4 linked regions of the Homo sapiens genome follow. The protein of the gene in region 2 interacts with the protein of the main gene of each other region in a pairwise test. Each region holds a gene or a part of one and is shown on either strand. Other genes may lie near its edges.

Region 1 (7,015 bases), on a different chromosome or scaffold from region 2:
TAAGCCCGTCGGAAAAGCACAGTATTAGGGTGGGAGTGACCCAATTTTCCAGGTGCCGTCTGTCACCCCTTTCTTTGACTAGGAAAGGGACCTCCCTGACCCCTTGCGCTTCCCGAGTGAGGCAATGCCTCGCCCTGCTTCGGCTCACGCACGGTGCGCTGCACCCACTGTCCTGCGCCCACTGTCTGGCACTCCCTAGTGAGATGAAACTGGTACCTCAGATGGAAATGCAGAAATCACCCGTCTTCTGCATCGCTCACGCTGGGAGCTGTAGACCAGAGCTGTTCCTATTCAGCCATCTTGGCTGCCCCCTCCGTGTGTTTTTAAAGTATGTTTAAAATATATAGCGGTTACCAAGGCAGGGCAAAGAGGAACGGGAAGTGACTGATAATGGGTATGGAATTTCTTTTGGGGATAATGAAAATGTTCTGGAATTAGATAGTGGTGATAATTGTACAACTTTGTGAATATGCTATAAATCACTGAATTGTAAACTTCAAAAGGGTGAGTTATATGATATGAAAATATATTTAATGTTATTAATTATTGATATTATATGATTGACTGGTTTTATATGGTTAATTCATCTTGCTAGCTGAGGGTTTGCCAATTCCCCTGACTTTCAATAATATATCCTTTTCTGTAAAACAAGGGATTAATTATATTAGCTAATATTTACTGAGCATTCACTGTGGAAGAGGATTTACATACATTATTTCATTTAATCTCAGAACAACCCTATGAAATACGTATTATTACTACATATTTTAAGGAAACTGAAGCTCAGATTGCTTCAAGTATCTTCCCAGAGTCACAATTATTAAGTAGTGGGTCTCAGATTTGAACTCTTTATTTGACCCCAAAGCCTATTAACCACTGAGTCAGCAGAGAGCCCATCAATATGTTTTGTGGAATTGAATTTATTAAATGGATCAAATTTGTGAAGCAAAATATCTGCAATAACTTCCTACTGCTCTAGAGGGAGCTATAGAATTGGAAACCAAATGAGAGTCTAAAATTTCTGGACCTGGAAATCTTTTAGGAAACACATCTACTGCCAGCCCCTTTTAGGGGAAGAAGTCTAACCTTAAGGCAGAGAGAGAGAAACTCGAGTCAGGAATTGATATTCATCCTTATAAAGCCCTGGCTGGCAGGAATCACTTTATAAGAAAGCACATCAGCAGGTCACGATGGCCCAGGCCTGTAATCTTAGCCTCACTTTGGGAGGCTGAGGCAGGAGGATCACCTGAGGTCAGGAGTTGGAGACAAGCCTGGGTAACATGGTGAGACCTCATCTCTACTAAAAAAAAAAATAATAATACAAAAATTAGCCAGGCGTGGTGGTGCGTCCCTGCAGTCCCAGCTATTTGGGATGCTGAGGCATGAGAATCACTTGAACCCTGGAAGCGGAGGTTGCAGTGAGCTGAGATGGTGCCACTGCACTCCAGCCTGAGCAAGAGAGTGAGACTCTGTCCTAAAAAAAAAAAAAAAAAAAAAAGAAAGAAAGAAAGTATGTATCTTCCTCCTTCAGTTCACTGTGCACATTCTCAAAGAGCAGAGAAAAGGCAAAGAGCTATGAAGTCCATGGAAGCTTGCATAAGAAATCCTTAATTTTTACCAGAGATTTTTTTTTCCTGAGAAGTTTTGTGTTGTAAATTTTTGAAATCATAGTTAAGATATCTAAGGAGAGTTCATTTGTTGCTTTTCAACCTTTATTCCTTCAAAGTAATTTTTAAACTTTGATGGGCAGTTTTTATGAAGAATTAACTTTGAGAGCAGAAAAATACAGTTCATCCACAGAGACAAACTATATAGCACAGCCAGCTTAAACCTAAGAGCAAGACACACTCCTGCTTCACGAGTCAAGCCATTTGCACATAAGAAGGCAAGATTCTGAACTTTCTGACTTCTTGGAGCTTCCCAGAGTTGAAAGAAATTTTAAGCCATTTAATTCACTCCTTTCCAACCTCTGCCTGAACATCTGAAGTAATGGGAAACTCACTATCACACAAACAATTTTTTTACTATTATGGAAAAGTGTCTATTTTCACTGACTTGGCCTTAAAGTAATAAGAATATAGTAGGTTTAGGCAATAGTGTTTATTTTTGCCCTAGAAATTATAAACAAAATGCTTATAGCCCTGTTTGCTTCAATAGCTAAGCACAGAGATGAGTAGCAGCAAACCTAAAGGTCCTATGATAGAGGAAATTAGAAACTGATCTTAATGATTAATATAATGAAATTAAACTTTATAAGAAGTGGAAACTAGTGGAAATGGATGATAACTCAGGATTCAAGGGCCCCTGAAAAACCCTTAGTGAGTTTTTCAAGCTTTCATGTAGTAAATAACCATTTTCTTTTGTTTGACAATCAGGAAAACACTAAGTTCAGAAGAACATAACTTCCTTTATTTTAGCTCTGAAGAGGTCTTAAAGGAAGAATTCAATTAAAAATGTTTACTATCTAAGTATCAACTCTGCCTTAAATATAAAATAATCAAATGTGAAGGTATTGTAAGCAAACCAAGTTATACATAATAATTTTTAAATCTAAAATAAAATGATTACATTGATAATGAAAGTAAATTGTATATAGTATATAGTTTATTTTTTCTCAAAATGTTTTGGTGGATTTCATTACTTTCCTACCAGCTTCTCTAGTATAAATTATCAGTTATTCCAAGGCTTGGAGAGAGTATAGTAGCTACCAGCTGTCACAAGTTAAATACTTCCCTTCATGAATTTCCTTTTGTGCTCCTAAATCCATATCCTCTTCTATGATCCTGTTTTCCACACTATTCCTAGAAGCCCTGCTAAGTTAAAAAAAAAAAGGGTCACTCACCTCCATGAAGCTTCAGCCCACCAAGGGGCAGAGGCAGGCACTTGAATCAGAGCTCAGCAGGCCCAGGATGGCTGCAGACTGGGAGTCAGGGACCTTTTAGTTTTCAAGGAATGGGCTCAGAGCATGATGGAAGAAAGAAAAGTTCAGGAGCTGGAGAGAAGCAGCAAGGCCAGAGTGAGGTCTGGCAGATTCCGTGACAGTTTGTCAGTTAACTTTGATCATCATTTGCTTAAGAGAAAGAGAAACCCTCATTAGAATACCCTACCTGCCCAACTTTTCTTTTGTAGGAGACAAGGGCAGCTCATTTAGATTCGAGTTAGTGGTCTAATCTTAAGGTTCATAGCTCCCCATTTCTGGACTAAGGATGCTCTATGAAAGAGGAAATACACGTCAGCAGCAGCCTATATTAAGCCTAACTCATGAAAAATAACCACCTCACCCCTGTTCATGATCCCATCACACCATCAAGACACCAGCTGAGTGGCTTTAATAGAGAGCTAGTTCACCTCTCATATTCCAATGAAGCAGCCCTGATTTTATCTCTGAGACAGTAACACAGGCCTGGGAAACACCAGGCCCTAAGAAAGCAGGATGAAAAAAGCTTCATTTCATACAGCTTTCTTCAGCAGTTTTAGCTCGCAGAGAGATGTACCAACACTGTGCTCCTGAGTGACTTATAAAGAGCCACCACAGAGCCAAACAGTTTTTCTTACAGTAGTTCCTCTAACTCAATATGATTTCTTGCACGTCTAGCTCCTGCCTAGCTGTCCAGACTTAATGACCACAGCTCTTTCCCCAGTGTTTGGGATCGCCCAAATATGTCACGCTTCTGCAGCTTTGTATATGTTGTCCCTTCGGATGGGAGTTTCCCTTCCCCCACACCCCCGTCATTATCTCTTTACTAAACTCTTCCCTAACCACCCCCTCATCCCCAAACCAAGCTTTACCCACTTCCCTGTCTCTTGTAGAAGATATTTTGCTGGCTCTATACCAGAGGTTACCAACCTCAGCCCTATTGATATTTTGGGCCTGCTAAGTCTTACGTTAGAGGGGCTGTCCTGTGAATTTTAGGATATTTAGCAGTGTCCCTGGCGTTTACACACTAGATGCCTGTAGCCACCCCCCCCCCACCAAACCCAGTCATAACAAAAATGTCTCCAGTCATTGCCAAATGTCTCCTGGGGGCAGGGGTTGGAATCACTCCCCAGTTGAGAAACACAGCTTTACTCCCTTCCTTCCTTCCTTCCTTCCTTCCTTCCTTCCTTCCTTCTTTCCTTCCTTCCTTCCTTCCTTCCTTCTTTCCTCTTTCTTTTTTTCTTTCTCTTTCTTTCTTTCTCTCTCTTTCTGTTTTCTTTCTCCCTTTCTTTCTCTCTCTGTTTCTTTCTCTTTCTTCCTTTCTTTTTCCTCTTTCTTTCTCTCTTGCTCTCTTTCTTTCTTTCTCCCTTTCTTTCTCTTTCTCTTTCTTTCCTTCTTTTCTTTTCTTTTTTCTTTTCTTTCTGACAGGGTCTCACTATGTTGCCTAGGCTGATCTCAAATTTCTGAGCTCAAGCTGTCCTCCCACCTCAGCCTCACAAAGTGCTAGGATTACAGGTGTGAGCAACACCACGCCTGGCCTAGTTTTACACATTTCTATAGCACCCTAGATCTTTGTACACGTGGCTTTAACAGAGTGTATTCTAATTGTTTGATTGCATGTCTGCCCCTCCACTAAGTTGTGAACAAACCACAGGATAGGTAGTACTGTATCTTGCTCACCTTGGCAATACATGGCATTTGTTAGATCAAAACCTTTGTCAGATAAATGTCTATGAAATGCTGGTGATCACTTAGTCAAAAAAGTAATTTTGTTTCATCTTGATTGTTTTTGTTGTTGGCTAAAACATTTGACAATGCTTAGTATAGCTGATTTTACTAAAGCCAGCGCCTGCACATTTTTGAACCTTTAGCCTAGGGGTAAGAGTACTGGCCTAGAAGATGGAAGCCTTGTCTCTCACCACCAGAGCACTGAATAGCCTTAGCTAAGACATTTAACTCCTATGGGTGTCAGTTCCTCCTTCTTTAAAATGTGAATTCCTAAGACCCCCTTCTGTCTCTAGAAGCCTGTGATTCCAAATCCTATGTAGCAAGAAGTCTCAATCTTCACAAAGAGTACTTCAAGTCTTTTTTTCACTATTTAAAAACAGTGTCCAGGCATGGTGGCTCATGCCTGTAATCTCAGCACTTTGGGGGGCCAAGGTGGGAGGATCACCTGAGCCCAGGAGTTCAAGACCAGCCTGGGCAAGATGGCGAGACCCTGTCCCTACAAAAAATTTAAAAATTAGCCAGGCATGTTGGCACGTGCCTGTGGTGCCAGCTACTCAGGAGGCTGAGGTGGGAGGATCATTTGCGCCCAGGAGGTCGAGGCTGCAGTAAGCCATGATCATATCCCTGCACTCCAGCATGGTTGACAGAGTAAGACCTTGTCTCAAAAAATAAAAATAAAAAATAAAAAAATTCCATTGCTGTAAACGAGACCCAGAGTGATGGTTAATTTTGTATGTCAACCTGACTAATATACCCAGTATAAAAGTTGCTTAAGCAAGAATGAAATTTATTTCTCTCTTAAGTAAAAGTCCAAACTTCTATAGTGGCTCTGGTTTGCAAAGTTGTCAGTCTCCCAAATTCCTTCTCTCTACTTTGTTAACACAGAACTCACAACATCCATAAATTTGGAGAGGAGACTTTATTTCTTATAAAGCGTTAAAGGCCTGCAAGGTGGCCATCCCACAGGCCAGGAAGTACAATCTCTGGCAAAGACCAGAGACAGGCACTTCAAAGGAGGAGCAGGGGTAGGAACTTGATGCTGAATAGGTTGGCTAAACATACATATTCAACAGGTTACAGGAGGAGCTATGAATAATTATGAAGGTCATCCTGACTCATGCTTATTGAACAAACATGCATGTAACATACAACCCATGTTCACTTTGAGGTGGAGACTTAACTCTTTTTGTTGTTGTTATTGTTTGTTTTTTGTTTTTCGCGACGGAGTCTTACTCTGTCACCCAGACTGGAGTGCAGTGGCGCCATCTCAGCTCACTGCAATCTCTGCCTCTGAGGTTCAAATGATTCTCCTTCCTCAGTCTCCCAAGTAGCTGGGATTACAGGCGTGCACCACCACACTCAGCTAATTTTGTATTTTTAGTAGAGACGGGGTTTTGCCATGTTGGCCAGGCTGGTCTCAAACTCCTGACCTCAAGTGATTCACCCACCTCAGCCTCCCAAAGTGCTGGGATTACAGGCGTGAGCCACCACGCCAGGCCTAAGGTGGAGACTTAACACTTAAATGCATAACAATTAGACCCTATAAGTCAAAATGCCTGTTCAGGACAGGAAGGAACAAGGGTGCTTAGCCTCTATAAACTGGCCAGAACCAGCCCATAGTCAGTGGTCTTCTTATCAAGAGAAAGTGGCTGGGTGCGGTGGCTCACGCCTGTAATCCCAGCCCTTTGGGGGGCCGAGGCAGGCAGGTCACAAGGTCAGGAGATGGAGACCATCATGGCTAACACGGTGAAACCCCATCTCTACTAAAAATACAAAAAAATTAGCGGGGCGTGGTGGTGGGTGCCTGTAGTCCCAGCTACTTGGGAGGCTGAGGCAGGAGAATGGCATGAACCCAGAAGACAGAGCTCACAGTGAGCCGAGATCGGGCCACTGCACTGCAGCCTGGGCGACAGAGCAAGACTCTGACTCAAAAAAAAAAAAAAAAAAAAATTGCTTATCTCAGCTGGTGCTTGTTTAGCTGCTAAACAAAAAGAAAAACTGACAGGGCAGAACTCCGTCTCAAAAAATAAATAAATAAATAAATAAATAGAAAATCTTGTGGCAGTTAGAACATAGTTTATTCTTTAAGTGTAGGAGTGCATGACATAACACTTGCCTGGCATGACCTTAGATCTTACGAATAATTTGTTATTGCCACAAAGGGTCTATTCTGTCAGCCTTATGATCTTTATTTTGACATTAATGCTGGTCAGTTGTTGTGTCTAAACCATAAAAGAGACGGAGATATAATGAAGCGTGTCTGACCTCCCATCCCGTCATGGCCAGGAACTCAGTTTTAAGGTTTTTCTGGGGTCACTTTGGTCAAGAGGGGTTCCATTCAGTCAATTAGGGGGCTTAGGATTTTAGTTT
Region 2 (7,025 bases):
GGATGTGTGGGACAACACTCTAAAAGCCAAAGAAAATAGTTCTGTAGGCCTCAGGCTGTGGATATATAGCTTTTGATCTGGTCCATCTTCCTCATTTACAGATGGAAAAACAGAAACCCAGGGATGTAAAATGACTTTTCCAAGCTCACACAAGCAGTTGCTGGCAGTGCTAGTAGTAAAACCTAGGTCTCCTTTCTCTTTGTGCAATGCTCTTTACATTTGGAATGTTAATTGTTTTTGAGGATGTGAGAAAAGCTAATGTCATGTACAGCCCAAATTTTATATCGTTTTGAGGATTTCAGACCCCCTGAAATCCATACATGAATATCAAGTAAAGAACCTTCTCTTGAATCTGCTGGTCCATATGTTTGCATTGTCAAAGGAAAAGGCCCCAGTATTTACATTTAGGCAAATTCATGGGAAGAAGCACTGTAAGCAGGAGACCTTGGCCCTCTTGGTCAACTTCTGCTTCTCTCCCTGCCTTACTGCCTGCCTTTTTTTGTTTGTTTGTTTTTTAGTATGCTAAATCTTAATTATGCAATTAATAGGAATATATTTAACTCTAAAATCCTTCTATCCTAAGTACCAGTCCCAGCAATAATTGCTTTTCTAATATTCTACATACCTATGTCACTCATAGAAAGTAATAATTTTTTAAAAAACTGTTACATGTACCATTTTGCAAGGTTTTGTTTTTTTTTTTAAATTCAACAATATGTCATGCATTGTATCCAGGTACATACAACCTACCTCATTCTTTTTATTTGCTATGTCGTATTCCACAGTGTGTTAATTCCACAGTTTATTTAGCCACCCAATATTTATGAATCCTTGGGGTGTTTACAGATTTTTAGTATTACAAACAGTGCTGCAATAAATACTTTTGTACATGCATCCTTGACACAGGTGCTAGTCTTCCTCAAGAGGAAAGGAGAAGTGGATTGGTAGGCATGTGATTTCAGAGTGGCAGTTATTTTATATATCCATCAACAACATATGGAAGTCCCCAATTTCCCCAGGGCCTAACACTTGCTGTTATGAGATTAAAATTTATTTCAGGCTGATGGGTAAGAAATTATATTTTAATCATGAGTGAGTCTGAGCATCTTTTGCATGTTTTGATGTGTTTGCATTTCACATTTCTATTTTTTTTAAGACAGGGTCTCGTTTGTTCATTTTTTTTTGGAGATTTCTGTTGGGTTTATTTGGCCTTTTCTTACTGATGTATAGAAATCCCTTATGTGTTTTTTCTGTATTCTTGATACCATGTATATGTTATAAATCTTTTTCATTTAGATCTTTCTGATCTTGGTTTTGTCACTGACCAGCTCTGTGATTTTGGGGACATTGTTTGACATCCACAATGCCATTTTTGTCCATTGTGAAGGAGAATACACTACCTTTTAGTTATTGTATTACTGTGAAATGCCAGTGAAAGAGTATAAGCGCTCTGAGCTTTGGGTTCATTTGATTTTCACCAGCCATTTTTTTCAGCTGTAAAGTGAGAATACACTGCTTTTCAGTGAGATGCCAATGAAAGAGCATATGAAAGTGCTTTGGAGACTAAAGAATACCTTCACATGTACAGCATTTTGTCCTTTGGTTTTATTATGACTCATCCCTAGGAGGTGGCTTCTGTGAAGCATCCTATGCTTCTACAGATTAATCAAATTCTGAGTGGTGGGTGTCACAATGTAGCACTTATCTCTTTTTATTCTACACCTTCTTAGGGGAGGAACAAGGTACATAAACAAGATATGCTCACATTGAACTCCTGTGTTCTTGGAATGCATTGGGTGGGATGGAGGTGGAGAAGTACAGATAGCAGGGGAATCCTACTACTTTGCTAGTCATGTTATGTGCCCCAAGGATTGACAATCATTTCTAAAAATGGAACCAAATGTCTACAAGGTTAGAATTAGGCTGTCTTTTCTTACTATCCTGGTTCACTTCTCAATTAGAACTCAGGTTTCAGAGGCAGCTGTTCTGTTCCACTATCTTTTCTGTTCACTGGTTCCCTAACTATGGAACAAATGAGGATATAATCTCCTGTCTGGCTATCTTTTGACTAATGGCTGTCCTCAGCAAACAAATAATTAACCAAAACATGGTACTATTCTATGGTTTGGGGATACTCAGACTCAGATACCACCACCCTTAGACCCAAACAACCCCATGCCCCTGACCTATGTCCCATACTTTTTTTTTTTTTTTTTTTTTTTTGAAATGCAGTCTCGCTCTGTCACCCAGGCTGGAGTGCAGTGGAGTGATCTTGGCTCACTGTAGCCTCTGCCTCCCAGGTTCAGGCGATTCTCCTGCCTCAGCCTCCCGAGTAGCTGGGCTATGTCCCATGCTTTTGAAGACCCCTCCTGTAGCCATGCCTGTCCCGTTCCGTACCACTCTTCAAGTACCTAGCTACCCAAGAATTACCTGGTAAAATGTCCTGAGCTTGCTTCCAGGGCCTGCAGAGCCTCTCCTTGAGTCCGTCTGCCTGAAGATGGACCAGTTTCTGATACATGTATCCCTAGGTCCCACATGTGTATCATGGGTGACCAAGAGGGGTATTCTCAGCTTGGACCTGCTAGCTTGAACACCTGTGCACAAGGCCCCTTGGGGTGCAGGAAGGGACTGGAATGTGGGGAAAGTGGTGGGAGTGGATTGGGGCCAGAGTCCTCCATTTGGACTCTTGCCCCAGCTCTGCAGCTGTCAGGGTCAGGTCTGCCCCGAGGAGCCTCTGCCTTCTGACCAACTGCTTATTTTATAGATTTTTAAAAAAGCCTTTGGGAAAGGTTTTCTTCACCACTGATTTAGAGACTGAGTATAGCAGGCTCATCATAGAGCCCAGTTAATCTTGGTGAATAATTCACAGAGAGTGGGGTGGGGAGGTGGAACAGGTGAGTTTCCTGAAGGGAGGCTCTCTTAAGTTGCCTCTCCTCTGTCTCTTCCCTGGTTAGGCGATGCTGCTGATGCTTTGTGAAAAGGAGGAAGGATTCTGCTGACACACTGAATTTTTATGAAAGAAGGCTAAGGGTTCCCTTATTCATCCACACGAGGCACATCTGCTTGCAGACAGGCTGTCTGCTTCTTAGGGATTCCTTCGTTGTCGTTTTATTCTTTTCTGAAGGTTTTAAGACACAGTTTGGTGCATTCCTTTCTGTTCTCTAGAGCCAGGGGGAAAGTCATAATATATCAGAGCTCTTGCCGAAGAGCTTAAAATGGGCGCTGGCAGCTGGGATGTGGGGGAAGAGAGCTTTCCAGGGACAAGTGACCTGCTTGTTCAGCCAATGAGAAGCAGGTTAGAGGAATGATATCACCAGACAGGCTTTATTGTCTGATCATCTCGTAAAAGCATGATTGTTTCTGGCAACTTAACCCTTTTTTAGGCACTTCAGGTCTCACCTGCTTCCTGGTATATGACCTCTAAGTTCCTTTTGTCAACTGTCTGCTATGAGACCACAGAGATTAAAGACTAAAATTAGTGGAGGATATAGGGGAGTTGTAAACCATCATTTTAAAAAATAGAACTTATTAAAATTTAGAACCTTTGCTAACATGGAAATGTGATTTAAGCTGTGTTTGGAGAACACATCTAAAGTAGATATTGGTTGTAGTCATGTTGTGTCTGATTTTTACTGTGTAGACTTGAGAGGCAAGAGAGGTCAGAGGGGGGAAAATTGACCCTTTAGTATATTTTAATTTATATAGTGGAATCTTATTAGGTATTTCCTATTTTGGAGGAATTGAAATTAGTTCTGTAAATTTGGAAGATATGTTATCACAGATCCAGAGGCCAATTTTGAGTAAGAGATATTTGCAGTATCTGTTTATTCTTGTACTTCTTTGTTGTCCCTACCCCATAGAAATGACAGTGAGTTTACCTCTTTTTGCTTCCTTTCCCTCATTGGTGAAATGAATGTTCCTACCTATCTGATAGAGTTGTTGAGATAAGAAAATAAATGAATTCCTGTGATTTTAGATTGTCCTATATATAATATAATGTATTATTATTATGGCATTCATGTCTTAAGGTTATATGTTCATTCATTGATTTGTTCAGACTTTTTACAACATCTAGATGCTGGGCATAAGAGATACAGGGATACAAAAAAATACAGTTCTTACCCTTAAGGAACTGAAAATATCACGAGGGAGACAGATAGTAATAAAACTGTTTCATACTTCCTTTTTTATTTACCATGTGCCAGGCTCTGTTCTGAGTACCTTGACATACATTAACTAATTTAATCTTACTGCAGTCCTATGAAATAGATAGTTATTGGCTCTATTTTACAGATAAAGAAATTGAGACAGAGAGAGGGTAAGTAACTTGCCTAAGGTCACACAGCTAGTGTGTGACTAATGGCACTAGGGCTCTAGTCTGTGCTCTAAATCTGTACTGACCAATATAGTAGTCACTAGTCACATGTGGCTTTGGAGCACTTGTAATGTGGCTGGTTTAAATTGATTGGGCTGTAATTGTGAAATACTAGATTTCAAAGACCTAGCATAAAAAAAAATCTCATGTTGAAATTGCATGTTGTAATGATATTTTGAATATACTGAGTTAAGTAAAATACATCAAAATCAATTTTACTTTTTAATTGTGGCAGTTATAAAATTATATACATACGCTTGCATTTGGGACTCACATTAGTCTTTTATTGTACTGTGCTATTCTAAATCATTATACTGTAATAATAGTAATAGCATATGAAATTTTTGAGCACTCACTGTGTGCCACATACTGTGCTAATATCTTTTAAAACACTTTCAGTTAGGCCCCAAAATAGCCCAGTTTATTATCACTATTTTATAGAAGGGGGAGAAGGTTTTGAGACATTTAGTAATTTGCCTGAAATTAATCAACTAGTTAATGGCAAATCCAAAATTGGAACTGTATATGTCTGACTCAAAAACCTGTGAGTTTTATGGGTTTTTTTGGTGTTGAACTCCTGGCCTCAAGCAATGCTCCTGCCTCAGCCTCCTGAGTAGCTGAAATTACAGGTGCAAGCTACCACACCCAGTTAAAAAACCTGTGTTCTTAATCAGCACACTACAGTTCCATTCATAATTAAATTTCAGACTATTTTCTTTGTTTTAATTTTTATAAGTATATTTAATATTGCATACTTCTATATCTGATGCATAAAGGTTCAAAATAAAAATTACCAGTCTGTAAAATAGACATCTTGTATGGAACTGTCTTTTGTAGAGCTTCAGTGAACACCAGCACAGTTGAGCCTGAGATGAAGCAGTGAGTCAGCCTATACAAATTGTATTTAATTTTCATTCCATATAGTTGTGCCAGTCACTGGGCAATTTATGTCCTGACACTCTTTGTCCATAGAGAAGGGAAAGAGGGGCAATGCACCTCTCCTTTGTTGTTTAGCTCTCTTGGCTGTTAAGAAAAAATTGCTTTCTATTTCATTGTCTTCCAAAATGCTGTTTGTGTTTGAGAGAGCAACAAAATGCTGTCTAGTGACCCCTCACTTTTCTTTCTTCTAGAGCAAAGACTCAGGTGGACTGAAGGCCGCTATGATCGAATTGGTGGAAAGGTTGAAGTTCAAGAGCTCAGACCCTAAAGTAAGTATTGTTTGGAATTGATTGGGTGTTGGTACCCCAAGCATTTCATTCTCCTTGAGCTAAAATTGTGAGGTGTTGATGATCATCTCTCTGAATATTGCATTAAGATTTAATTAAGCCTGCCCATCAGAAACAGTGTCCTGATATGCCTAGAGATAAGTCATCTATTTTTCTCCTTCTCTATTTTATGACTTACAACACATAATCATTCATTGTTTTCCCTGAACTGCAGACAGGTGCATTTTTAATCCTCCTTTACCAGGGGTCTTTGAATCTTTGGTCCTCTGTGTCCATTAGATGCAGCCAAAGGCGTCTGAGAGAAATACAGATCATCTTTTTTTTTTTGAGACAGAGTCTCGCTCTGTTGCCCAGGCTGGAGTGCAGTGGCGCAATCTTGGCTCACTACAGCCTCCGCCTGCCGGGTCCAAGCCATTCTCCTGCCTCAGCCTCCTGAGTAGCTGGGATTACAGGCCTGCGCCACCATGCCCTGCTAATTTTTGTATTTTTAGTAGAGACGGGGTTTCACCATGTTGGTCAGGCTGGTCTCGAACTCCTGACCTCGTGATCCGCCCTCCTCGTCCTCCCAAAGTGCTGGGACTACAGGTGTGAGCCACCGCACCAGCTGAGAAATACAGATCATCTTAATGCCAGGGACTGGCATGGGATCCAGACTCATCTAGTTGGTGTTCAGCACTAGCGTCTTATCTCTCCACTGCTTCCAGGAGCCAGCTGCCACTCAGAATACTTTTTTCCTCATGACCTGAAGTCTGGTTTGGAAACTGGTTTAAGTGTCCCGGCTTTTTTTTTTTATTTCAATATGTTAGGGTCTAGAGGATTGATATTCTGGGAGACACCATAACGGGGTGGAGGTAAACGGAACTGAACAGACTTCCTTCTCCTTCCTACCCAGACACTTACTGTGGCACTACCTGGTATTGGGGCCAGCTGGCTTTGCCTTAGAATCAAAGTTTCTCACAATTAAATAGGGAAAGGCGCATGATTTTATTTTACTGTAGGTTCTTTTTGTTTTTGTTTTTGTTTTTTTTTTTTTTAAGAGGAATGGGACTAGCATTTCTTGAGTATCTACTGAGAGTCAGGCACTTTGCTAGGACTCTTACATGATTGTACTAAAATATACATACAAAATTTTAACCATTTTTGAGTGTACAGTTCAATGGCATTAAGTACATTCACTTTGGTTTTTTGTTTGTTTGTTTGTTTTTGTTTTTTGTTTTTTTGAGACGGAATCTCGCTCTGATGCCCAGGTTGGAGTGCAGTGGCATGATCTCGGCTCAGTGCAACCTCTCCCTCCCAGGTTCAAGTGATTCTCCTGCCTCAGCCGCCTGAGTGGCTGAGACTACAGGCACATGCCACCACACCCAGCTAACTTTTTGTGTTTTTACTAGCGACAGAGTTTCACCATGTTGGCCAGGCTGGTTTCG
Region 3 (7,832 bases), on a different chromosome or scaffold from region 2:
GAAGGTACTCCATGTCCTCCTCCAGCTTCAACTGTGGGACACACAAACCGCAGGATTTGGGATCAGCGATCCCCCTACCTCCTGCCTAGAGTCCAGTTGTGCTCGCTGAAACTGCACCCACCCCAGAGACCCTCCTCAGGAGGGGCAGGGGATCAAAATACGTCACCCAGAATGTGCCACCTTGGATTATTTTGAGCTGAAGGCACTTAAAAAAGGGCAGGTGTAAGAATTGCTGTGACCCTCGGCCTTCCTAAGAGCAGAAGGCACAGCCACCATGCCAGAGAGGACTGCCCTAGGCCAGGAGGAAAGCCATGTTCTTACCAAGGGCGGGAAAGCCGAAACCAGAGAAATCTGTGCAAAGGGACCCTGCTAAACTAACCCTCATCCTCCTCAGGTACATGTTTGGCTCTAACATGCTTCCATGGGCCTCTGGCTCCTTGGGAGCGACTCCTGGGTCATGGAAAGCTTACAGGGAATGAATTTCAGTGCTTTGCTTCTGCTTATCTGTCTCAAATCAGTTTGGTTCTCAGAGCCACCCAAAATACTCTGAGAGGAGAGGTAAGATTTTGCAATGCCTGCATCATACAGTGTAGGCCCACATTGTCCCCAGGGACACCCCTACCCAGCCACAGGCCACCTTGTCCCCTGGATGCCTCCTCCCCAGCCCCTGACTCGGGCCACTTTGTCCCTGGACACCTCCTCCCTCCCCCATGATCTGGGTCACCTTGTCCCCCTGGATGCCTCCTCCCCGGCCCCTTGACCTGGGCCCCGATGTGGCCTACCTTGTACCCCTGCACTGCCTCCTCGGCGGGCAGCACCCTGTGCAGCCGGTGCTCCCGGGACTCCCTGCACACCACACAGATGGGGCTCTGGTCCTTCTGGCAGAAAAGCTTGAGGGGCTCGTGGTGCTCCTGGCACAGGTCTTGCTTCTGCAGACCAGGATGCTGCTGCGCCATCTCGGCCACCTTGGTCAGCAGCCGGTTGGGCAGCAGGTTCCTCTGCGGGGACATCTCTCTGCACTCGGGGCAGGGGAAGGAGCCCTTCCGCTTCCGCCTCCCCTTCTTGCCCCTCGCCTTTTCCCAGCTCAGCTGGATGCAGGCTCGGCAGAAGTTGTGGCCACAGGTGGTCATCACAGGGTCTGTGAAGTAATCCAGACAGATGGAGCACGTAGCTTCCTCCTGCAGTTTTCTGGCGAGTTCCACAGCCTCCATGGCTCCTGGGAGACACGAGGCAGGTTCCCGCTTGAGGGACTCTGGAGAGAGTTGGAGGGAGCAGCCCGATGATCTGGGCGCCGGCAGTGTGCAACCGTCCTGTACAGCCTCCCTTTACAGAGGAGGGCTAGGACTGCAGTCCAGTTAGAGAGTCCAGAGTCATCATTTTTAGCCTTGTCAACAACAGACACAGATGCCTCCCCAGAAACTACACAGACCCTCCCTGACCAATGCTCTGCAGGCCCCTCCGCCTCTCCTCTCCACTGGGCCTGGACCCTACCCGTCCACTTCCGCCTGCTGCTGGCTACCCCCAGCTCCACATCTCATCAGCTCCTCCTCCCCGACAGACCGTTGCCGGCTAGGCCTTCAACCTGCCTTTCTGGAGAAGCCTGCTAGGTCAGCTTAGGGAGAAGCCCCTACCCTTGGAGCCTTCCCTTAATCACTTTCCATCCACTGACCCCACCCAGATCCCCACTCCAACTCCCCCATACATCCCCAGCTGTCTTTGCTGGCGCAACTCTCCCATTGCAAGTAGCCTGACTAAAGAGCCTTTCAAATGTCAGAATTTTTTCTTTAACAAAACCCCGTACACCAAAGGAAGAAGGGATGGGCTATCAGAGGAAAAAAGCTCTCTTCCATTCGGTAGTGAGGTGGGGTTCAGAAAAAACACGCGTGTGCATGTACGCACAGACGAACACCCATACACATACCCATGTATGTATACAAACGTGCATGTGCACACACGCATACCCACGCATACACACCACACAAATACAAACATGTACGCACAGAAACACTGATCCACAAACACAGCACACACAGGCACAGATGCACATATCGGTAAACATACATGCATGTACACACAGGTACACGCGCGCACACACGCACAGGCACACAAGCATGCACATAGATGCCCCCTGCAATCTCAACACTCGCGACCCCACGCAGTGGAGATCTACAGACTTTCGCCTACGCCACGGGGTTGCTATGGGGACCGAGTTGCAGAAGGAGTTGAAAATCGCGTCTACACTGCAAGCACGATTCTCCCCTTCCGTTCTGCCATCCCCTAAAGCGAGGGCGTCTAGGGGTCTCAGACTTCCCCGGCTCTGTCCCACGTCCAGTTTCTCGGAGCTTTCTGCACGCCAACCACCCGGCGCCAGCCCTCCGACTCCCCCCAAGAGCCCTAACGGAGGCACCCAGCCCACCCTGACCGAAGCCGGGCAGGGACAGCGGCAGCGGGCCTGGGGCTCTGGCTCTGGCTGCCGGGATGGCTGTCCTTCCCGCTCTGGTCCGCTAGGGTCCCGGTAGAGTTACCTTGTTGAAGCGCGCTAGCCCCTCCAGGGACGCGGCGGCCGGCGGAGGCGGGAAGGCCGGGCGTTGGAGGGCGAGGAGGACCGGGTTAGGCTTAGGTCGTGGCCCAGGCGCCACAGGAGGGTAGCCTAGGCGGCGGGGTGGGGGCTACTCACCGCGGGGAAGGGGGGCCCGCACAGCGCCTAGTGCACCTGGCCGAGCGCTCGCTGCCGGGAAAGGCTGGGTCTGCCCCCACGAAGCCCAGGAGGCTGCGGCCCGGCCCGGGGCGTGGGGACCTGGGGTCGGGAGGCCTAGGGACTTTGTGGCGTCAGCGGGGGCTGGGGGGCGGCGGGGGAGGGGAATGCTGGGCGAGGGAGTGTTCGGCGGCCGGGACTGGGGCGGCGCCTCTTAGGAGAGGTTGGGGGTGGCTTGGGGAAGGAAGGCGGCAGGGGGTGGAAGGCTCTGGACGAGCCGGGGACAGGCGCAGCGGGTGCTGACTGGGCGGTGGGGAGGATGTGGTCCACAGCCCAGCGAAGGGAGGAGTCTTGTTGGCCTGGGGTGGGACTTTTAGGGGAGGTTAAGGGAGTGTGGAGGGTGGGGAGTTGGGGGGTTACTTGGGGGTGGGGAGTGGAATGGGGACAGCTGGTGGGGCTAGGGGCGGGCAGGCGAGCGTCAGGGTGGGGGGAGTGGGATTGGAAGAGGCTTCTCAACCTGGGGTTGGGGCTGCGGGAGGGCACGCGAGCCCCAGGCTGGAGGGTTAGGTGAGGGGCTAAGTTGGTCGGGGTAGGGGATGGAGAGGAGTTTGTGTGGGCTGGGGTGGGGGCGAGGCAGCAGGAGCGAGTGCCTGTTGAGAAGCTATGAAGGGGGTCCCCAGGAGCAGCCAGTCAGCCGCCAGGTCTGCCCACATGGTTGGCAGTCAGCATCAGGCTGAGGGTACAGGGAGGGGCGTCCCAATCCTGTGGGCGGACCAGTTTGGAGGGACCACCTGGCAGGTCAGGTCCCCTAGAACCAGGCGGGACGGGGTGGGTCTTGCCGACACCCCAGGTGGTTTTGTTACCAGAAACAGGTCCTGATCCAGACCCCAAGAGAGGGTTTTGGATCTTGGGCAAGAAAGAATTCGGGGCAAATCCATAGAGTAAAGTGAAAGCAAGTTTATTAAGAAAGTAAAGGAATAAAGAGTGGCTACTCCATGGGCAGACCAGCCCCCAGGGCTACAGGTTGCCCATTTTTATGGCTATTTACTGATTATATGCTAAATAAGGGGTGGGGTATTCATGAGTTTCCCAGAAAAGGAAGGGCAATTCCAGAAACTGAGGGCTCCTCCCCTTCTTAGACCATATAGGGTAACTGTGACCTTGTCTTGGCATCTGTAAACTGTTGTGGCACTGGTGAGGGTATCTCATAGCATGCTAACGTATTAAAATTAGCATATAATGAGCAGTCATGATAACCAGAGGTTATTCTGGTCGCCATCTAGGTTTTGGTGGGATTTTGCTGGCCTCTTCACCACATACTGTTTCATCAGCAAGGTCTTTATGACGTGTATCTTGTGCCAACCTCCTATCCCATCCTGTGACTTGGAATGTCTAACCTCTGGGGAATGCAGCCCAGCAGGTCTCAGAATTATTTTACCCAGCCTCTATACAAGATGGAGTTGCTCTGGTTTAAAAGTCTCTTACGGTTTCAGCCAAAATGCCGCCCCCAGCCCTGCCCAGGTCCTGACTGGTGGCCATTTCTCCTGGCCTTGAGTCCCCACGCCTAGTCATCACGCTTCATCCTCCAGTAGAGGGATGCACCTTTCACATGGAGGGTTCATCTCCTGCTTTCAGGAACAGGAGCCAGAGGCCTGCGTGCCCTGAGTCAGAGTCCTGGGATTGGAGAGAGAGGACAGATGAAGAAACTAAGGCTTGGCCCACACAGGGGGTGCAGACAGGCAGGAAAACAGGGCCTTGAAGGCTAAGAGGCACCATTCTGCAATCTCCTGGGTGTGCGGGTGTAGACAGCTGGCCACAGGCATAGATGGCTGGCTTTCCCTGGGCTCACTCGGTAGAGTGTTTCTTCTGTGGTCTCTCATCACTCGCACACACAAAGGGGTCTGTGTGCTGTCAGGTGCGGGCTGGCTGCGCACACTGGCCGATTAAGTGAATTACCCTTGTGAACCCAGAATATCTGAGGCTAGTTTAAGTCAATTAGGAAGTTTATTTTGCCAAAGTTAAGGACACACGCCCATGACACAGCCATGTGCCCAAGGTGGTCCGAGCACAGCTTGGTTTTATACATTTTAGGGAGACATGAGACATCGATCAATATATGTAAGATGAACATTGGTTCCATCCAGAAAGGCGGGACAACTGGAAGTGGGGAGGGGGCTTCCAGGTCATAGGTAGATAAGAGACAAATGTTTGCATTCTTTTGAGTTTCTGATTAGCCTTTCCAAAAGAGGCAATCAGATATACATTTATCTCAGTGAGCAGAGATATGACTTTGAATAGAATGGGACGCAGGTTTGCTCTAAGCAGTTCCCAGCTTGACTTTTCCTTTTAGCTAGTGATTTTGGGGCCCAAGATTTATTTTCCCCAATAAATTGGGGATTGGGCAGACCCAATCCTCTGCCTGTCATTTGCATCAGTGAGGGGATTGTGAGCTGCAGGTTTCCTTCAATTGGGAAAACAGAATCACAGAATTAGAGGGGAAATGGAATATATCTATATCTTGCATAGCACCACACATGTCCTAGTCACCTGCTGACACGTTATCACCCTTTGTTACAAATGGTTTACAAGCAGCTGAGCCTAACAACTTCTTTGGGTTTTCACTTCTTTCCTGTACACCCCATGCATATAAAAATATTAAGATCAATACAACATGGATGCCTTTCTCCTGTTCGTCTGTCTTTGGTCAATTTAATTCACAGTCTCCTCCCATACTAGCATGATGTGGGGAATTCAACAAATACTTGTTAAAATGTGGCATCAGCCCAGGATGCTCATTATTAATGCTTTTTAGGCTCACCTGGTTATTGAGCTGAGAAATCTATCATCATGATAAAACAATTGGAATAACCTTCATATCCTCAAGTCATTAAGAAAAAATCAGATAGCAGTTATGTGTCCTGATAAATTGTTAGGTTTAATAAAAGGCAGGATGTACAGTATATGTAGTCTGCCACTATTTAGGTAAACATAATTACTGTATATGTATCTCTTGGAAAATATACAAGAAATAAACAAGAAACTCCATCTGATGAGGGAAATTAAGGGCTGAGGAACCCCCTAATTGAGGGAGGCTCAATTTTCACTATATATCCTTTTGGAATTCTTAAATTGAATTCTACTTTAATAATTTAATTCTTAAATTAAATACCACTGCTGTGGATTGTGGTTTTTTTTTTCAAATTATTTAAGCAAAGGATCAGCAATGTCAGTCTTGAAACACAAGTCTTACTTACACTGCTACAAGGTAAATATCCTTTGCCCTTACTGAATGCAGCCCCCACTAAGTTATTAACATTGTAGAAAAGATTCGAGAGCAAAATTTAAGTGCTCATGCAATTTAAAATAGGCTGAATTAAATGGAAAAGAAGAGGGGCTCCTGAAAATAGGGTAAGAGAGCCATGGCCTCTTTATGTCTTCAATTCAGACTGCTCAACAGGAGAGTCCACTGAGCCACAGAAAAACAAATCCGGATTGTTATGAACTGAATGTCTGTCTCCAAAATTCACATTTTGAAATCCTCACCTCCAAGGTGATGGTGTTAGGAGATGGAGTTCTTTGGAAAGTAATTATGCCATAAGGGTGGAGCCTTCATGAATAGGATTGGTGCCTTTCCAGAGATTTATTTTCACCTTACCCCTTGCACCACATGAGGACGCAGTGAGAAGGCCCTGTCTGTGAACCAGAAAGCAGAATCTCACCAGAAGCTCAATCTGTTGGCACCGTGACCTTGGACTTGCCAGCCACCAGATCTGTGAACAATAAATTCCTGTCGCTTATAAACCACCAAGCCATAGCATTTTGTTATAGCAGCCTGCATAGACTAAAACGAAAGAAGACAGATTAATGGGAGAAAGCATACACATTTCATTTGTACATGTACATGGGAGCCTTCACAGCAAAATGAAGACCTCAAGAGTAGTTAGGCCTAAGTGCTTATCCACTGGATGGAACAAAGGGTAGTAATTGTGAGAAAGCAACTGGAATACCTAGGGAGGCTGGGGAAGGTAAGAGCTATTTTTGTTTGTTTGTTTGTTTGTTGGAGACAGAGTCTCACTCTGTCACCCAGCCTGGAGTGCAGTGATGTGATCGTGGCTCATTGCAACCTCCACCTCCTGGGTTCAAGCAATTCTTCTGCCTCAGCCTCCCAAGTAGCTGGGACTACAGGTGCGCGCCACCACACCTGGCTGATTTTTTTTGTTTGTTTTGTTTTTTTAGTAGATACGGGGTTTCACGTTGGCCAGGCTGGTCTGGAACTCCTGACCTCAGGTGATCTGCCTGCCTTGGCCTCCCAAAGTGCTGGGATTACAGGCATGAGCCACTCTACCTGGCGATAAGAGCTACTTTAACAAAGCCTGTTTGTATACATTTTGCTGCACTTCAGTCCCCATGCCTAGTCATGCTGTTTCTCCCTGCTGGTAGAGGCAAGCACCTTTCCCATGGAGGGTTCATCACCTGCTTTCAGGAAAAGGGGTCAGAGGGCCCTTCTTACACCTGCTGTTCTTCAAGTGCCTTCAGCTCAAAATAATTCTTATATCAAATCTGCATATTTTGGGGAGGTCTATTCTGCTATCTTGTTGGGAGCTGAAAGCCTGAGGGTCGTGACCAACTCAGCATTCCACTGGAGGCTATATGACTAAACAGCAAACTGTTTATCATGAATGCAGGATGTGGGCAAACTCGCATCTGTGCCTGCCACCAGAAGGTACGCTGAGGGCCTCATTCCCTGGCTCTGTGCTCCTTGAGGTTATCTACTGGGACATCTGGAGCCTACTGTTCAAAGAATGCAGTCATGCAGGCCTGCACTAAGTCAAGCAGCTGACCACAACCACCCCCTTATCCCTGTCTCCTTTACTTAATAAGAAGGGCTCTAGAAGCTCAGGGCCCTTGTTCACTAGAAGCAAGGAGCCCCCTGACCCCTTTTTCCAAATATACTCTTTTGTCTTTGTCTTTATTCCCACTTTTGTCCTCCTTTGTTCAGTCCACCAAGGCCCATAGCACTATCTCTTAATGCCTAACTCTCCTTTCTATTATTTCTGGAATTTTAACTTTTTGATATTTAGAACCACTCTTTCCACTTTTATAAACACTGCATGCTCAGGCTACCTCCATAGTGTAC
Region 4 (6,794 bases), on a different chromosome or scaffold from region 2:
TGTGATTGTTATCAGCATTTTTGGAATCTCTAGTTCTTCCTACAGGAACGAGTGGTGACCCCACCAACTCGCTCACGCCTGACATAGCTTCTCACGGGGCCTGGCTCATGGTGGAAAATCGCATTTTCCTTATTTCTGCTTTTATAATAAACTTACCTATCATTTGAACTAACTTGAGTGGGTCTCAGTTCTTTGCAATAGAAAGGGTTGCTACCATGTAAGCTTTGAAAAATGAGGTGTAAACTGTGGATGTTACAAATGTGCAACAGTCCTTCAGAGTCGGAAAGGGTAGCTGGGACTCTGGGGCCTCTAGACTTGAGCACTTCCTGGGGAGGGAACCCAGAGTCCCACTTCCGGCCAGCAGAGCAAGGAGGTTCATTAAGCTGCCTTATCTTGAAGTTACCAGGTTTTAGGATCTATCCACTTCCCCTGTGCTGACTCCATACTCCGAAAGCAAGTAAACTTCAAGTAAAATTACCCTAGGGGAGAAGCAGGTACTGACAGACCAACATGAGTGTTTTCACTTATGAGCAGTTTTATTTCTCAGTGTAAGACATATAAATTGTTCTCACTGACATATAACTATTAAAAGAAAAATAAAATAAAACAATTTAAAAAGAAGAAATATAAATTGTATTTCTGAATCCAAGTCACCTGTGGGGGTGTAGCCAGCATTAAAATAATCGCCAGGACCCATGCAGGCATCTATCTCTGAATGAGGCAGTGCAGCATAGCAGTTAAGAGCTCTTGGGTCAGACATGGATGAACTGGTTGCATGATCTTGGCTCGTTACCAAGATAAAGTGACACAAGGTGTGTAAAGCTCCCGAGCTGCAAGCCAGGATCTTCATACACATACATTTTAGAGGATAATAGTCCTTTCAAAAGACACAGCTAAAGCCAATAAAAATAAACAAAAATAGGATCTACTTTTCTGGAATCACAGGTTTGGGTGCTTTGGATATGTTTTATCATTATATAGGCACTTGTGTGTGTCTGTATTTTTTTGAATATACAACATTTTAATGAGATACTGCACACTCCCAGGGAAAGCAATTCAATCTCTAATCCCTGGCTTCTGATCTCCACCTCTTTTCTACCTGCTGAGGTAAGGATGAACAACAGAACTTCTCAATTGAATTCTAAGCTTGGGCCTAAGCACGCTGTGCCCTCTGCCTTTGAGTTTGCACCCTGGATGGCTCCCCTCCTCCCAGGAGACCCAGTAGGGAGATGACAGAGCATTGTAGTTTACACTGAGCAGAGTAAACAGATGATGTTAAGGAGACTGTCAGTGAAGGGCATGATTATGCAAAATAAAATACAATAGTGACAAGAACAAGAAAATAAAACATGGTCACTCTTCCATCCCATTTCTCAGATGTCACTACAGTAGTCTCAATTACGGTAGTCTCAATTCTTTAGACTAAAGTTCATAGGTCATCCAACTTATGCCCTGGCCTCCTTCTGGAATTCTTTTACCTAGCAGTTTCTGAGCCCACAGCTGAGCTATTTGTGACCCATTTGCTCCCACTATCTCATTTCTTGACCTCAGATGGTAATCAACTGATCAGGAAGACAATTTCCCTAGGGTTGAGTGTGGTCCCTGGGTTATGATTTATGGCTATACCTTATGTCCTCCTGCCCCCAGGCCCTGCACCTTAATCTCACCCAGAAGTGGCAACACCAGGAGGAAGGAGGCAGTGAGTGGCGTCGGCTGGGGATGGCACACATCTGCCCATAATGACAATGGAGACAACCCAGTGCTCCAGAGTCACAGGTCATCCAGCCAGTTCTCTGCTGTTTCCTCTTCTTAAGATGCTTCTTCCCCTCTTTTCCCTATTGACCATAGGCATCCTTTAGACCACCCTTTTCAGAAAGCCATCCCCCACTCACCCTCTCCTTCCAGGCTGGGCTATGCCCCTTCCCCTGAACTCCCATAATGCTGGGGTTGGACTTCCCGTAACACCCACCACACTGTGCTGTAATTTCCTCTTTATGTTTCTCTGTCTTCCCAAGAGCTCTTTCAGATATAGAGCAGGTTTTTTTTTTCTCTATATTTTCAAGTCACCAGTGGCCACCACACTGCTTGGTTCATAGTTAACACAAACTAAATGGTTCTAGAGAATGTGATTACATGAACTCTAACATTATTGGAAGAAAACAAGATGAAAAGAGGTGAGATGCCTTGTTTAAAGTCATACAACTGGTTGACAGGCTGGTTCAAGAACCCAGGTCTTCTGACTTCAAATCCAGTGCCCTTTCTATGCAGCTACTTCTGTGCCAAGCACGGATGGTGGTGAGCAGAACTGGCAGCAGCCTGAGTCCCCAGGTACCCTGGCCATCCACTGGGCATTGGGGAAAGGACTTGATCAGTAGATTGAGAGTCCTCTCTTCTATCCCTTACCACCCGGCCCCATCCCATCTTCTAAAGCAGTCATTTCTATTCCAAGTCATCCAGGTGATTCAGCCAGGGATCAAGTCCACATGGTACTTGGGTTGATATGAGTCCTGTACTTAGAGGAGAGTAGGTAACTGCTCCTTCTCAGGAGCTCAGGGAGAAACTGGACCCTCGGCCCCAGAGCCCAAAGAAGGGAATGACCTTCCTAGTGAAGGAGGCAGTGAAGGTGTAGATGGGCTCTCGGGTGACAGCGTTGGTGAAGGTCACCCAGCCCACCTCATAGTCAAGAGACACCCTCACCTGCCGGGGCTGCTCCTTCAGGGTCAGCCGTGTGGGGAAGGAGCCCAGAGCCGAGACGAAGCCCCAAGCCAGCCTCACAGCCCACACCCCCTCCTCTGGCCGCAGCCGAAGCTCCCCCTTCCGCTGCACATCCTCGCTCACCACGCCCACGGTGCAGCTGCCCCCATGGGCCAGGTCTATACTCACCACCCACGTGTGTCTCCCCCCTGTGATGCCAGTGTGGGCCAGAACACAGGTGGCCCGGTCAAAACGTTGGGGGTTGTCTGGTGAGTTCTGCCATTTGTAGGAGAACTGAGCTCGCTGGTGGTCCTCGGACAAGAGGAGCTTGGGGTGGGAAGTCTGAGGGTCTAGAGAAATGTGAGCTGTGGGGATAACCAAAAGGGACAGATGTCAGCAGACATGCTATTACCTCCAAGGAAGGCATAGAAACTCCCCCTGGGCCCCTCCTGTTAGTGTTATTATTACCAAAAACATGTATAGTGCCTACGTGGGCCAACAGTGTGGAACCACCTGGGAACTTGTTAGATATACGCTCTCAGAATCTGCATCCTAACAAGATGCCCAGGTGATTTGCACACAGGTAAAGCCTGAAAAGCCTGCCTCAGAGGATGTGAAAGCTCTCGTTTAGTTCAGTGTGGTCCTCGGGAAAGCTCTTCTGCTCACCGCAAGTTGGCTGGTTTCCAAAGCTGTGCGTGCCAGCTTGGATCTCCTGGGGCTGATATACCACATTCTCCCCTCCTCCCATCTCTATCCCACAGTGCAGCGACATTTCTCCCTTCAGTCCAAACTTCATGATTCCTCCCTGTTTTCCTCCCAGGGCACTGGTGACTCATTTACAGTCTTCCCTCCTGGCAGGCTCTCTGGCTCACCCCTGGGTTATTCACTCTGCCTCAGTAATTCTGAAACTGTCAGAGTCTGAGGACCACTTTTTACCACCAAAAACTGCTGCAGAGCCTTGCGTTTTGTTACTTTTAGTATTCATAAATTGAGAAGCTTCCATAAATTTAGGTCCATCTGTGGGTTAGAGAACCCCCTCCAACAACTCCGTGACTCCCAGGGTCTTAGGCTGGTTGATTGAGAAATGACAGCCTTGAAGGGGTCCATTCTGTTCATTTTTTTCCCACCCACAGGCCGCCCTCCTTCTGTCATCTGTGAAATGACATCTGAGAGGAAGCAGGGGTTCCTTACGTTCTAAAGAGGTGATTATAAACCCAGATCAAAGTCCCCTTTATCCAGAAAGCATTCCCAGATGGACTTTATCCCATTCTGCATTAATCTTTCTATCTACTCGACATGCGCAGATCAGGATGTGAGCTTCATACCACGAATGTAGTATGTGTATGTGCTTGTCCTTTCTTCATGTTTCTCCTGAGAGCCTTACAAACAATGTGACACACACACACACACAACCTATATATACACACATGTATTATATACACACACATATGTGTATATATAATATATATGATGTGTATATGTATCCATGGGTGTTTGTTATGACTATTGTCATAGTCATAACATAGTCATAGTGCAAATCCTGCAAAATTTTCTCTCCTTTCCGAGGACTTCTCATTCTCTCCCATCCTGACATAGGCTCCTTACCTGGCTCATAGTCCAACTCAAAGCATAGTTTTTCTGTAAAGAAAATAAACCAGGATGAGATTTTATTAGTCTTACAAAACCATCAGACACTTAATGATGAGAAAACTGAGGCCAAGAAGAGGGAAGGGACAAGAAGAAGAATGTAAGCTGGAATCCTCTAGACCAGTGGTTCCAAGCTTGCATCAGAATCATCTGGAGCTCTTGTTAAAACACATCTGTTTCAGATTCAGGTGCTCTGGGGTGGAGCTGAACATCTGTATTTCTAACAATTTCCTGGGCAATGCAGCTGCTGCTGCTGGTGGGAGCCCCACTGCCCTAGCCCTGATCAAACAGGGACCATGACTGCCTTGCTCACCTCTGTACCCGCAGAGCCCAGGACATAGTAAATGCTCAAGAAATATCTGCTTAGTGAATAGAGAAATGGGTTCATTTATTTATTATTCCACTTGGAAATAATTTTGGGGAGAGTCAAAGGTCAGCCTTTGATTAGAGTGAAATTTCCTTCACTGACAGGTCACTGGAAGTATTTGCAGGAAATGGAATTATGGGAAAAGTCCTTCTAGGGTGACATAACTGTGGGTGGGTCATTTCAAAATTGGTGTCATCATTCATTCTGTCATGGTTAGTGAGGAGGTGGTTGGCAGAGAGCCATGTCCCATTCCTGACTCTCATCCAAACCCTCCCCCACACCCTACCACCACTCCCTGTTCCGGAAAAGGAAGTGGAGCACAGTCCCCGTAGGACCGTCTAACTCTGAGCCAGACTAACAGAAAGAAAGTGAGAAGGAAGGAGGGACGAGCCAGATACCACAGGGTCAAGATAAATACTGTTGTTGGCTATTAATTAACAATGTTCATCATCAAAAACTTATCACATATTACAAATGTTGCTGTGGGATTTTTTAACTTATTAAGAATGATATATTGTTAATCATTATCTTTCATATTGCTTAATGACCACTAATCAGATTTGTTGAATTATTTTAAAATCAGTTTAACTTTTTCACCAGAAATATTCACCTTTATTCTCTTTCTTCATTGTCACAATATCCTAATAGGCAGATTTTATAAAAATCTGCAAATAAGGAAATCAAGGCACAGGAAGGAATAAGGCTTGCCAAAGTCACACCTTTCAGCAGTGGAGCGTGGAGGCCACTCCTAAACCCAGGCTTCATGGCCACCTGCGCTCTGTGGAGGCCTGGGGTTCTCTTACCCAGAAACATCTTCATCTCCCTCTGCAGCGGGAGGGCCTGCTGGGGAAAGTCCCGAATCCTCTGGCCCAGCTCTGGCGACACAGCCACCGGTTTCCGGCACTTTCTGGTTTCACATCTAGGGGCACAGAAATGGCTGGGTCTGGGAATTATCATCCTTAATAATGTCTCCAGACTCAGCTGGTCATCTTCTAATAGGGCATGATGGCGCTAGTTCCTGCAGGCAGACGTACTTCCTCTAGGATGAATCCCACTGCCCATTTTTGGGCATCTATGGATATACCTGAGAAGGCATTTGGGTATATAGAGGTTTATATGTAAATTTGTATCCTTAAGTGAGAATGTTATATACCTGTGTGGCAATAACTAGGCATGCAGTACATGTATGTATATTTATATGGAAAAAGAAAAGAGAGAAACTATATTGCTTACCTTATTAGAGTGCTTCTGATGTCCTAGGAGAAAGAGATACCAGAAATTCAGTTTCCAGCTTCTCCTTTCCATTTTTCTTTCCTTTCTTTTTCTACTTTTATTTTATTTATTTTTTATTTGCTTGTTTGTTTGTTTGAGAAAGGGTCTCACTCTGGTGCCCAGGCTGGAATACAGTGGCGTGATCATGGCTCACTGCATACTCAACCTCCTGGGCTCAAGGGATCCTCCTACCTCAGCATCTTGAGTAGCTGGGACTACAGGTGTTTGTCACCATGCCTGGCTAATTTTCTTTTTTTTTTTTTTTTTTTTTTTGTAGAGATGGGGTTTTGTTATGTTGCCCAGGCTCCTCCCACTTTTCTTATGACTGGAAAAGACAAAATATATTTCTAGCCCTGGACAGGAAAAGGATACCAGATGCATAGAGTCACAGAGCATTAGGACTCACCCATCTCTGTGGATCAGAGCCCAAAGCCTTTATTTTTTAGATAAAGATGGTGAAGTGACCTTCCCCTGCTCACTGGAGGCAAAGTAAGTCTCATACCAAGGTCTCCTGTTTCTCAGTCCTAAGAGCATCATTCTAAGTCATGCTGCCTTTCCAATACTTTGTGGGGACCCCAATACCTCTCCTCCAGTGTGAGGAAGTGAAATAGACCAGGACAAACTTCCTGACTGGTGGTTGGTGACATTTAGGTTATAGAGAATGGTTTGCAACTTACTTAATACTTTTTCAAAGTGCTACTTTCACTTCCATCTTACTGTTGGATCCTCACAAAAGCCCTGTGAAATATTTAAGGAAAGTATCTTCCCTATTTGGCAGATGGTGGGACGGAGAGGTGGAGACCAGAGAGCAAAA

The links.
Region 1: the proteins of TRIM44 (region 2) and TRIM69 interact in binary tests that used the Homo sapiens proteins (3 or more experiments, as listed by UniProt).
Region 3: the proteins of TRIM44 (region 2) and TRIM17 interact in a two-hybrid assay, tested with the Homo sapiens proteins (one study listed by BioGRID).
Region 4: the proteins of TRIM44 (region 2) and TRIM10 interact in binary tests that used the Homo sapiens proteins (3 or more experiments, as listed by UniProt).

Annotation. Positions count from the first base shown.
Region 1 is NC_000015.10:44,732,538-44,739,552, reverse strand, and holds the start of TRIM69 (E3 ubiquitin-protein ligase TRIM69), read right to left. Parts: upstream 3,026-7,015; 5' UTR 2,849-3,025; coding exon 2,843-2,848; intron 1-2,842.
Region 2 is NC_000011.10:35,679,754-35,686,778, forward strand, and holds part of TRIM44 (tripartite motif-containing protein 44), read left to right. Parts: intron 1-5,505; coding exon 5,506-5,583; intron 5,584-7,025. UniProt on the Homo sapiens protein: May play a role in the process of differentiation and maturation of neuronal cells. May regulate the activity of TRIM17. Is a negative regulator of PAX6 expression.
Region 3 is NC_000001.11:228,413,862-228,421,693, forward strand, and holds the start of TRIM17 (E3 ubiquitin-protein ligase TRIM17), read right to left. Parts: upstream 3,001-7,832; 5' UTR 2,678-3,000; exon of another isoform or gene 1,253-2,677; 5' UTR 1,212-1,252; coding exon 783-1,211; intron 32-782; coding exon 1-31. UniProt on the Homo sapiens protein: E3 ubiquitin ligase that plays important roles in the regulation of neuronal apoptosis, selective autophagy or cell proliferation.
Region 4 is NC_000006.12:30,151,428-30,158,221, forward strand, and holds the end of TRIM10 (tripartite motif-containing protein 10), read right to left. Parts: intron 5,965-6,794; coding exon 5,942-5,964; intron 5,628-5,941; coding exon 5,512-5,627; intron 4,333-5,511; coding exon 4,300-4,332; intron 3,060-4,299; coding exon 2,542-3,059; 3' UTR 2,345-2,541; coding exon of another isoform or gene 2,261-2,344; 3' UTR 516-2,260; downstream 1-515. UniProt on the Homo sapiens protein: E3 ligase that plays an essential role in the differentiation and survival of terminal erythroid cells. May directly bind to PTEN and promote its ubiquitination, resulting in its proteasomal degradation and activation of hypertrophic signaling.